Linked DNA regions of Homo sapiens. The protein of the gene in region 2 interacts with the protein of the main gene of each other region in a pairwise test. Each region holds a gene or a part of one and is shown on either strand. Other genes may lie near its edges.

The links.
Region 1: the proteins of NPAS2 (region 2) and RHOXF1 interact in a two-hybrid assay, tested with the Homo sapiens proteins (one large-scale study listed by BioGRID and IntAct).
Region 3: the proteins of NPAS2 (region 2) and HESX1 interact in a two-hybrid assay, tested with the Homo sapiens proteins (one large-scale study listed by BioGRID and IntAct).

Annotation. Positions count from the first base shown.
Region 1 is NC_000023.11:120,113,741-120,117,570, reverse strand, and holds the start of RHOXF1 (rhox homeobox family member 1), read left to right. Parts: upstream 1-1,657; 5' UTR 1,658-1,664; coding exon of another isoform or gene 1,665-1,708; coding exon 1,709-2,106; intron 2,107-3,830. UniProt on the Homo sapiens protein: Transcription factor maybe involved in reproductive processes. Modulates expression of target genes encoding proteins involved in processes relevant to spermatogenesis.
Region 2 is NC_000002.12:100,966,639-100,970,138, forward strand, and holds part of NPAS2 (neuronal PAS domain-containing protein 2), read left to right. Parts: intron 1-1,642; coding exon 1,643-1,790; intron 1,791-3,500. UniProt on the Homo sapiens protein: Transcriptional activator which forms a core component of the circadian clock.
Region 3 is NC_000003.12:57,197,791-57,201,620, forward strand, and holds HESX1 (homeobox expressed in ES cells 1), read right to left. Parts: upstream 2,189-3,830; 5' UTR 2,129-2,188; coding exon 1,972-2,128; intron 1,163-1,971; coding exon 963-1,162; intron 703-962; coding exon 601-702; intron 506-600; coding exon 407-505; 3' UTR 48-406; downstream 1-47.

The DNA.
Region 1 (3,830 bases), on a different chromosome or scaffold from region 2:
GGTAGGCTACAGACTCAAAGGGTCTGCATATTTATATATGCTGCCAAAAAAACCTCAAATAACCAATAGATATAAATAGATACAGAAAGTTTTTAAAAGAACATTTAAAAATAAAATTTTTAAAAATATTTTTAAAAAACAAAATAAAGTATATAACATCACTTAAGAGCACACACACAATCTCTAGAAAAATTAAGGATTCATGAGTTGTCCACCCTCAAAAGACATCTCCATGCCCTTCCTCATGACAGACTCTCTTAGCGCTTTCCTTTCTTTCATTTTCATTTTATTTCTTATTTTATTATTTATTTTAAAGAAAAGGGGCCTCTGTCTGTTGCCCAGGCTGGAGTGCTGCCATGTGATTCTAGCTCACCACAGCCTCAAACTCCTGGGTTCAAGTGATCCTCCCATCTCAGCCTCCTGAGTAGCTGGGACTAGTGCAGGAGCCACTGCACCAGGCTCTTCAGGGTTTTTCTTCGTAATTGGGCTTATTGGGGTCAGTGGTAGGAAGGCTGTGTAGTTACAAGGCTCTGTGGAGCAGAAGTGGCCCCACATCCAGTAAGCTGCATATCCTTAAATCCCAAATCTCCATCCCAAGATTGGAGATTTTTGGCAGGTATGCCCTTACTGGTGCTCTTCCTATACCATCCCCGATTTTATTTATTTATTTATTTTTTGCTTGTCCTTATAGCACTCCATTTTGCCATGAGTACAGGTTTCTCTTGCATAGCCAAAGATATTCAGTCTCAGGCTAACAGATTCAGCCTCGTGTTTATTCTGTGTTGACTTTCTCAAAGGGTGCGTTAGATTTCTTGCAGAGCACATCTTACCACCCAGAATGCTCTGCATGCCCATCTCCAAGATCCCGATCCCAGCACTGAAGAGAGCATGGCAGCTCTGCTTTCAGTGCCTTTGCTGGAACTCTGAACAAGCAGCCCCCAGTCAATCATTTCTGCTTAATTAATAGCCCGCGCCCTGTGCATGCTGCCAAATATGGAGGGTCAGGCCATGAGATATTCTCCAAACTTTTACTCAAGGCGTCCTATGGTCACCGTGAGATCTCACCTCCCCTCTGAGCCCCCAAATCAGCTTTCCTCAGGGTAATAACTAGGCCCGAGTAGGGTGTAGTCAGCAAAGCTGCAAGCTGGGGCCCCATGTTGCATACATATATGCCTCCTATTGGCCCTTTTCTTCTCCACACTGCCCCTGTGTTTTGGCCACCCCACTCCACCCTCAACTGCCACCCCCACCCACGACCCATACCACACCCCTCACCCCCACCCACAACCCCTACCCCCACCACGCACCCTCCACCCACACCTCCCATCTCCACCCGCTACCCCCACCCCCACCATGTACCCCCACCGGCAACCCCCACCCCAACCCACAACCCCTACCCTCACCCGCAACCCCCACCCTCACTGTGCACCCCCCACCCTCCACCCACACCCCCATCCCCACCTGCACCCCACCCCACACTCACAACCCCCCACTCCCACCTGCAACACCCCCACTCCCCACCCGCACCCCCCAACTTCCCATCCCCCCACTCCTCTCCATTCCCTCTCTTGCTTGTGCGCATAAGCAAGTCCCACTCATTGCAACTGTAACCAATACCAAGCATGAGAACAGGAACTAGCTCCACCCTCTAACCCCCACTCCAGCTGCAGACGCCACGGAGTTTGTGCAGGGGCGCAGCGCTCCAGCCATGGCGCGTTCGCTCGTCCACGACACCGTGTTCTACTGCCTGAGTGTATACCAGGTAAAAATAAGCCCCACACCTCAGCTGGGGGCAGCATCAAGCGCAGAAGGCCATGTTGGCCAAGGAGCTCCAGGCCTCATGGGTAATATGAACCCTGAGGGCGGTGTGAACCACGAGAACGGCATGAACCGCGATGGCGGCATGATCCCCGAGGGCGGCGGTGGAAACCAGGAGCCTCGGCAGCAGCCGCAGCCCCCGCCGGAGGAGCCGGCCCAGGCGGCCATGGAGGGTCCGCAGCCCGAGAACATGCAGCCACGAACTCGGCGCACGAAGTTCACGCTGTTGCAGGTGGAGGAGCTGGAAAGTGTTTTCCGACACACTCAATACCCTGATGTGCCCACAAGGTAAGTGGCCTGCTCCAGGAGCCACGAGATCTCCAAGTTCGTTTCGAGGCATCTTTTTCTCTCCCTTGCCCCACCCAATCATGAGGAAAAAGCCACTGGGGGTCCTTGCCTGCCTTTGTGCTGGTGTGGAGGGGGATATTTACCTCCTGGGCATCAAGGTAAATGTTTTATTGCAATGTTTATGTGAATGAAACCTGGAAACTAGTCCGTGCCTCCCTTTTATAAAGATGTGGTAAAATACACGGAAATATGAAATTTACCGTCCAAACCACTTTTTAAGTATAGAGTTCAGTTGTGTTAAGTATGTTCACATTGTTGTGCAATAGATCTCTAGAATTCTTCTCATCTTGCCAAGCTAAGTCTCTATACCAGTTAAGCAACTCCCCTTTTCCCCCTTTCCCCAGCCCTTGGCAACCACCATTCTACTATTTTATGTCTCTATGATTTTGACTACTCTAGGTATCTCATGTAAGTAGAATCATACAGTATTTGCATTTTTGTCACTGACTTATTTCACTTAGCATAAGGTCTTCAAGGTTCATCCATATCGCAGCATATATTAGAATTTCCTTCCTTTTTAAGGCTAAATAATATTCCATTTTATAGATACAGGTGCACACCAACAGTACATGGGGGTTCCAGTTTCTCCACATCCTCACCAACACTTGTTATTTTCTGGGGTTTTTTACATAGCCATCCTAATGGGTGTGAGGTGATACTTCATTGTAGTTTCGATTTGCTTTTCCCTAATGATTAGTGATGTTGTGCATCCTTTCATGTGCTTAGTGGCCACTTGTATATCTTCTTTGGAGAAATATCTCTTTAAGTCCTTTACCCATTTTAAAATCTGAGTGGCTTTTTCTTTCTTTCTTTCTTTTTTTTTGGTTATTGGGTTGTAGGAGTTCTTTATACACTCTGGATATTAACCCCTTATCAGATGTGATTTGCAAATATTTCCTTCCATTCTATGAGTTGTCTTTTTACTCTGTTCATTGCATCTTTTGATATACAGAAGTTTTAAATTTTGATATAGTCCAAGTTATGTATTTTTTCTTTTATTACCTGTGATGATGGCCTGTTTTTGTTGTTGTTGTTGTTTTTGTTGAGTGGGGGATCTGTCACCCAAGCAATCCTCCCATCTCAGCCTCCTGAGTTGCTGGGATTATAGGAGTGAGCCACCACACCCAGCTGTGGTCTGTTTTTATAAATAAAATTTTATTGAAATTGGGGTAAGGAGAATGAGGTACTGTCATGCAACTACAGTGCTAGATCCTTCCTTTATTTAAAATTTTGATAATTTGTTCATCATAGTTTTTTTTTGTTTGTTTGGTTGGTTTTTTGTTTTTCTGGTTTTTTTGTTTTGTCTTGAGACAGAGTCTCTCTCTGTGGCCCAGGTTGGAGTGCAGCAGTGCGATTTCAGCTCTCTGCAACATTTGCTTCCTGGGTTCAAGCCATCCTCCCGTGTCAGCCCCCTGAGTAGCTGGGACTGCAGGCACAGGCCACCACACCTGGCTAATTTTTGTATTTTTTTTGTGTGTAGAGATAAGGTTTCGCCGTGTTGCCCAGGCTAGTCTCAAACTCCTGGGCTCAAGCAATTTGCCTGCCTCGGCCTCCCAAACTGCTGGGATTACAGGCCTGAGCCACAGTGCCTGGTCCTCATCACAGATTTTTGCATTAATTGTTATTTATTAAAATAGTGCATTAGGGCCAGGCACGGTGGCTCA
Region 2 (3,500 bases):
GCTGGAGTGCAGTGGCGCAATCTCGGCTCACTGCAAGCTTCACCTTCTGGGTTCAAGCAATTCTCCCACCTCAGCCTCTAGAGTAGTTGGGATTACAGGCGTGTGTGCCACCACGCCCAGCTAATTTTTTGTATTTTTAGTACAGACAGGGTTTCACCATGTTGGTCAGGATGGTCTCAAACTCCTGACTTCAAATGATCTGCTCACCTCGGCCTCCCAAAATGCTTGGATTACAGGCATAAGCCACTGTGCCTGGCTAGAACTTTCTCTTCTGTGGAGAGGGAAGGAAGAATAGGCTTGAGTTCCATCTGGATCGGCTGTTAGAATTTAAAGCTAATCATTAAAACTGTAACTCCTTGCTCCTCAAAGCGTGGTCTAGGACCACACTGCATAGGCATCACGGGAAGTTTGCTACACTTGTAGAATCAGGCCTACTCAGAGTGTCTATTTTAACAAGATCCCGAAGTGAAGAATTACATTCAGCAATTGAAAGGCTTCTCCATGGCTTGGGCAAGACCTCCTTGCCCTGTGGAGCCCACACCCTCAATCTGCTGGGCTTATCTCCTCTTCAGATAATCACATTCTCCAAGTCAGTGTCCTTTTTTTTTTTTTTTTTTTTTTTTTTTGAGACAGAGTCTCACTCTGTCACCCAGTCTCGGCTCGCTGCAAGCTCCGCCTCCCGGGTTCACGCCATTCTCCTGCCTCAGCCTCGTGAGTAGCTGGGACAACAGACGCCCGCCACCACACCCGGCTAATTTTTTGTATTTTTAGTAGAGATGGGGTCTCACCGTATTCGCCAGGATGGTCTCGATCTCCTGACCTCATGATCCGCCTGCCTCAGCCTCCCAAAGTGCTGGGATTACAGGCATGAGCCCCTGTGCCCAGCCATCAGTGTCCTTTTGTAGCGTTAGTTTCCTAGTTGAGATTTCTCTTAACCATTTACCTAAAGAGGTGCTAAGTTCCAGGCACTATGGCAATAAAACCCAAATCATTCTTCTTCCTTGGATCCGTAGTCCATCTTTCTGCCCTGCCCAGGCTTGATACACCATCAGCATCCATTCTGCTCTGGACACCCCTAGAAAAGCCACCAGCAGACATCACTATGGGGGGGCTGCAAGCAGCTCTGGGGAAGGGGGAAGCCTGGGGTGGAGGCATCTGTCCCCGACTCTTTATTTGAGAACTGTGTCGACTGGGCATGAACTGCTGACTGGCAGCCACAGAATCCGTCCAGAGGTTGCTGGCTGGCAGGTCTGTTTTCGGGCCAATTCTGGATGCTCTCTCCTGGGCTCCTGCAGCTCCAAAGACAGCTCTGCCTGCGGCGGGAGGATGAGCACCAGGCAAACCTGAGCCTCTGTTTCATTAAACCTGCAGTTTGAAAATCTGTCTGCATCTGCCCTTATCTGAGGATCTCTTTAAGCGTCTGAGCATTTGGGAAAGTATATGGATCACTCTTCCACTGTTTAAGAATTCACGACAGTGTACCGTGATCCTGACAGTCACTTAAAATACAGGGCAACCGGGGAAACAAGCCATGTTTGGTATTGTCTTTTTTTTTGAAAGCTTATCTTTACAATAACTCTTGGGGAAAAGATCATTTTCATATTAACATTGGTTATATGCGGAATCCATTTTCTACCGACAGTGATGCAGTTTGGCAAAGGGAAGTCGTGTTGCTACCGGTTTCTGACCAAAGGTCAGCAGTGGATCTGGCTGCAGACTCACTACTACATCACCTACCATCAGTGGAACTCCAAGCCCGAGTTCATCGTGTGCACACACTCGGTGGTCAGGTACCGCGCACGGGCAGGGGTGCGGCTGCGTCCTTGTCGCACCTGGGGGAGGGGTGCAGGATGGCGTGGCCCCTGATGGCCAAGTCAGATCAGCAGTCACTCAGGTGTTCCCCATTTCGAAGATGAAGCCCAGGCCATCCCCTGCCGTTAACAGCACAATTCCCAGAGCTCAGCTCGCTTCCAGGCACCACTGGCTCTGCCCTCCCAGGGCTGAGACTCCTTTCAAGCTCTCAGTCAGGCCCCTTTGAACGCCTCATGGACTCTCGCAGGCTGCCAGGATATTACTTAGTAAGTGACTGCTTCACTGACCTACTTACATATTTTCCCATCTCTATCCAGCCCACAGCCTTCCCTTGTTCCTGCTTTGAGTAGAAAATTTAAATTTTACCTCTAAATAACTCAAACACATATTCCCCTTTATTTTTAATGCTTTAAAAACCCCTGCTGGCAACTGAGGCAGTGTTGGGAAAACAGCCTGGCTGCCAGTGGGCGCGGGTTCCTGGGAGGTCCCTGCTGGCCTCAGGGAGCCCTCCACCCAGGGCGGGTGAGCAGGACTTTAAAGAGACGCGGCATGCCCAGGGTTTCATAGATGCTGCCTTTGTGGGGTCACTGTTCCCAAGGATGAAGGGGAAAATGGTCTTCTCCCCGACTACGGAAATTTTAAGAACGTAAATTAGTTTTAAGCTGGCCTACAGAGGAGCCTTGGAGAAGGGCAAAGAAAGAAAAGTTGGAAGGACAGCATGCCTTTCTTTTTTTTTTTTTTTAAACTTTAAGTTCTGGGATTCGTGTACAGAATGTGCAGGTTTGTTACATAGGTATATATGTGCCATGGTGCATGGTGCCATGCACCTATCAACCCATCATTTAGGCTTTAAGCCCTACATGCATTAGGTATTTGTCCTAATGCTCTCCCTCCACTTGTCCCCTACCACCACCCCTGTCAGGCCCCGGTGTGTGATGTTCCCCTCCCTGTGTCCATGTGTTCTCATTGTTCAACTCCCATTTATGAGTGAGAACATGCGGTGTTTGGTTTTCTGTTCCTGTGTTAGTTTGCTGAGGATGATGGCTTCCAGCTTCATCTATGTTCCCGCAAAGGACATGAACTTATTCTGTTTTATGGCTGCATAGTATTCCATAAAATTAGAAAAACCTACTTGAAATTTCATATGCATTTCTTATATACAGCCACTTGCTGCTTGATGATGGATATGTTTTGAGAAATGTGTCATTAGGTGATGTTGTCATCATGCAAACACCATAGAGTGTACTGGACACACCTAGATGGTGTGGCCTACCATACACCTTGGCTATACCGTATAGTGTATTGTTCCTAGGCTACACACCTGTACAGCATGCTATTGCACTGAACACTACAGGTAGCCATAGCACAGGTGTAAGTGTGCACCTAAACGTATCTGAACACAGAAAAGGTACGGTAAAAATACAGTGTTCCAATCTTAGGGAACCACCAATATGTCCCATAAGCACATGACTATATATATGTAACAGACAGATGTAGACAGACAGACACTACACACACTCACACCATACATGTATCAGGTCACCAAATCAGCCATTCTTCCTTAACACGCAGAAGAGGGGAGAAACACTAGTTTTCAGCAGCAAATGACCCTGATTCTACTTGACCACACTTCATGCCTTCGCTCAGGGACTTGATCTTGGATTCCCAGCCTGCCACTGGGCGTGCAG
Region 3 (3,830 bases), on a different chromosome or scaffold from region 2:
TATGTTTCAAAATGTGCATGGAAGAAACTAATGAAAACAACTCACACTTTTGTTCTTCAGATTATTTTACTTGAAATACTTTATAATTAGAATCCAGCTTGTGGAATCACTTAGTCATGAGTCTATTGATTTTAACAAACTAATTTATTAGATTAATTTGGCTTACTTAAAAAATAGCAATCTTTTCTGAAAATGTTTATTAAAATATATATAAAAGGTCTTTACTATAACTAAAAGTGCCCAAATATGTACCATGCTATAATAGTATTTACAATATATTTTCAGAAAAAATGACAATATTCAGATTAAATGCAGGAAAGAAAACATCACATTTTAACACTTAATATTTCCACTGATTCTTCATGCTCTGCAATTAGAAGATAATTTCACTTGTTTAGTTTTCTATCTATTCCAGCAGATTTGTGTTGAAATTTTTTTTCGCCATTAGAAACTGTGATTCTCTATGGGACCTTTTCAGTTTTGCACGCCGATTTTGAAACCAAATCTAAAGTTAAGGAAAAATAAAATAGGTCTCAGAAACATTATTTTATTATTCTTAACATTTCAACATCATGAATAACAACTAAATTTGAAAATTACCTGGATTCTGTCTTCCTCTAGATTCAATTTTTGAGCTAAGTCTTCTCTAATATCGATACCAGGATAGCAGTTTACTCTAAAGACATTTTCTAACACTTCAATCTAAGAAAAAAAAATGTTGATATTCAGTATGTCTCCAAAAATGAGCTTTAATTTCTAGAGTAAAATGACTACATTTAAATCTTGGCAATTAATCTGGATGCCTTTTTAAAAATGATTACCTGGAAATTGTTAAAATATGGTAGTCTACTGTTTCATTAATAAGGCTTCTAAACTGAGATACCAAAGTGAGTGGGCTTTTGCTCAACTTGGTGTCAATTAAAGCCTTTATATTATCATTATTGGGTGAAAAAACTTCCCACCTGGTTTTGAGTAAAAGCAGTTCTTGGTCTTCGGCCTCTATACCAACTCAACTCTCTTTTCAAAGACAGTCTTTCTGAGGCTGAAAAGTAATTTTCATATTTCGAAGCTCTTTCTTCTGGCATTGGGTGATCCACCACGCTAGGGAATGAAATCCCACTGGGAGGATTTGGGACATGTAGACATAAGTTACCATCTTTCCCTAAAAACAAAAAAATAAGCCCTGTCTTAGATGGTCAATCTTATGTTCCACAAAGTTCTATAGAGGTAGTTTCAGGAACTCATCTTTCATTTCCTAGTGGAATTCTGGGGTTCACAAGAGAATTGCACCCCGTTAACCAAAAACCAATAAAAAATGAAGATCCTGTCTTGGTAATCCTGCCTCTTTGGTCTCTGAATGTCGTTTATTTTTCAGTGAAAAGAGATTTCAAATATCTGATGTGTCAAACAGGGAGAGATCTTCTGAAGTAAATGCAGGTTCTTGGGATTTCCTGTGAGTGAATTTATCCACTTTGCTCAATCCAAAGCTGATATTCTTTTAATTTCCCATAGGACTCAGTTGGAGGCATTAAAAGTCCTAGACTCTGGCTGGGCGTGGTGGGTCATGCCTGTAATCCTAACACTTTGGGAGGCTGAGGCAGGCGGATCACCTGAGGTCAGGAGTTCGAGACTAGCCTGACCAACAGGGTGAAACCCCCCTCTACTAAAAAATACAAAAATTAGCAGGCCATGGTGGTGCATGCCTGTAATCCCAGCTACTTGGCAGGCTGAGGCAGGAGAATCGTTTGAACCCAGGAGGCGGAGGCTGCAGTGAGCCAAGATTATGCCATTGCACTCCAGTCTTGGCAACAAGACCAACACTCTGTCTCAGAAAAAAAAAAAAAATAATAAATAATAATAATAAATTAAATTAAAGTCCTAAACTCTAGCTCTATGTAGTATGAAATAAAGGGCAAATTAAACACTGTAAATGAAATAACAAAGAATTGAAACAATTAAGCTGTGGCATACCTGATGAGCTGCAGGTGTCTGCCCAGGGCCTGTGGGGTTTCATTAATGGAACACAGTCTTTCTTCTGGTCCAGTCCTAAGATTCTCTCAATTGAAAAGGAGCAAGTTGAGGGTTTGTTTTCCCCGAGCTGAGCGCCTTCCTGAAGGCTGGGAGACATCCTCTCGTGGTCTGCACAGAGCAACAGCTCTGGCCTCTGCTGGCTCTGCCCCACGTGTATAGGGCTGGGATCTTCCTGCAGTTCACCTTATAGCTCCGCTGACAAGGGGGCTGGATTTAGAACGTCACTAATTAAAATCCTGTCTTAGAAAGTTTTAGCATGTCAATGAACACTTGCCCAGCCAGCAGCTTAAGGAGTTAATTGTTTATTTGTTTGCAAGTAATTAGCAACTAATGGCTACACCAGGGGGGCCACCTACAGGGACAAAAAGTGTTATCTCTCCTAAGCAGAACACAGACTTAACTTTCTCTAAAGAAGTGATGCACAAATGTGGCACTTATCTTTTATTTGAAATCATTAATGTATAAAATCAAGCTTTTTATTCTGAAGTTTATACTTTCATGGGCTCCAGTTACCTAAACATACAGGCAAGATACGAGAGCAGTCGAGTAATAAATAATCTAATTTAAGTAAATTTTCTTCCAAGGAAATGGGAAAAAATAATAATCTCTTAATGCTATTACAGTAATTCTGATGAAAATGCCTGTTTTTCATATGCATATGTAATAGGGAATGTTGTCAATGAAAACACAATAGTATTTGGAGTGCAGCATAGTGGAAAAGGTTGGCAATGTTATTAACATGGAGTGTAATTGTCTTCCAAGTGCCTGGATTAATTCATAGGAACAGTTGCACCAAGTATTTTAAATAATTAATGGGCTAATTCCTTTCCTTCCTCTTTTCTTTTAAATGAGAGAGATACATGTTTATATGAAGGTTCATATGTAATCACCTTCAAGCAACTTAGAAGCATGACTACTTAAAGTGAATAATTTCTCTATCACAGTTATTTCAAAGAAAAGAACATAGTTTGCTTTCTAAAGAAAAATTTCCGTCTGTTGATCTTTTGAGGGATGGGCAGAGGATGGAGTCTTTCAAGATGGTAAGGCTTATGAAAATAACCAAGAACAGAATGTTTTAATTTCATAATCCTAAGAAAACTTGAAATTAAAATTAAAGTATAACTGCTGATTGGGAAGATTTTGAACTGGCTGTTCCCCCCGCAAAGGTATACTTGTAGTTTTTATACTCTGCTCCTCCTCTTCTTCCAGTACCTTCCTGAAGATAAATTTAAGTGCTTAGCTTTATTCATTATTTAAACAACTGCTGTTCTTTCCTTCAGGGAAGGGAAAAACAGTCTCCACTCATAGAGGAAATAGCCTCTATAGGATGGAGCTCATCTTCATCAGCTTTTATCCTATTATGATCTCACAAATATTGAGCTAAATTCCTCCTGATGAAAGCTCTCGGGTAAATAAAGGATCTCACATGCAAAACATCAACAGGCATATGGATTTATAAATGTACGTGTAAAACCATTCTGCGGATGAATAAACCGGTGAACATTTATACCTCATGGAGATTTTGTATATAGTGCTGAGATGTAGATTGTGCAAAGGTGGGGGGTATCTTAATCTGGGACGACTAGGAGGAAGCGAGAGAATACAGGACCTTTTCAGCTTTCTTTCTCTCCTTTGAGACATTCATTATTTCCTTCCACAATTGGTTGAGCACCTTCTCAGAACCAGAAAAAAACAAAATACTATCCTTGCCTTCATAGAGCTCACAGTGGTGCAGGGTGGGGGGCAGGAAACAAATAATAATTATAGGTAAATTATCTAGTATGTTAGCCAGGGTAAGA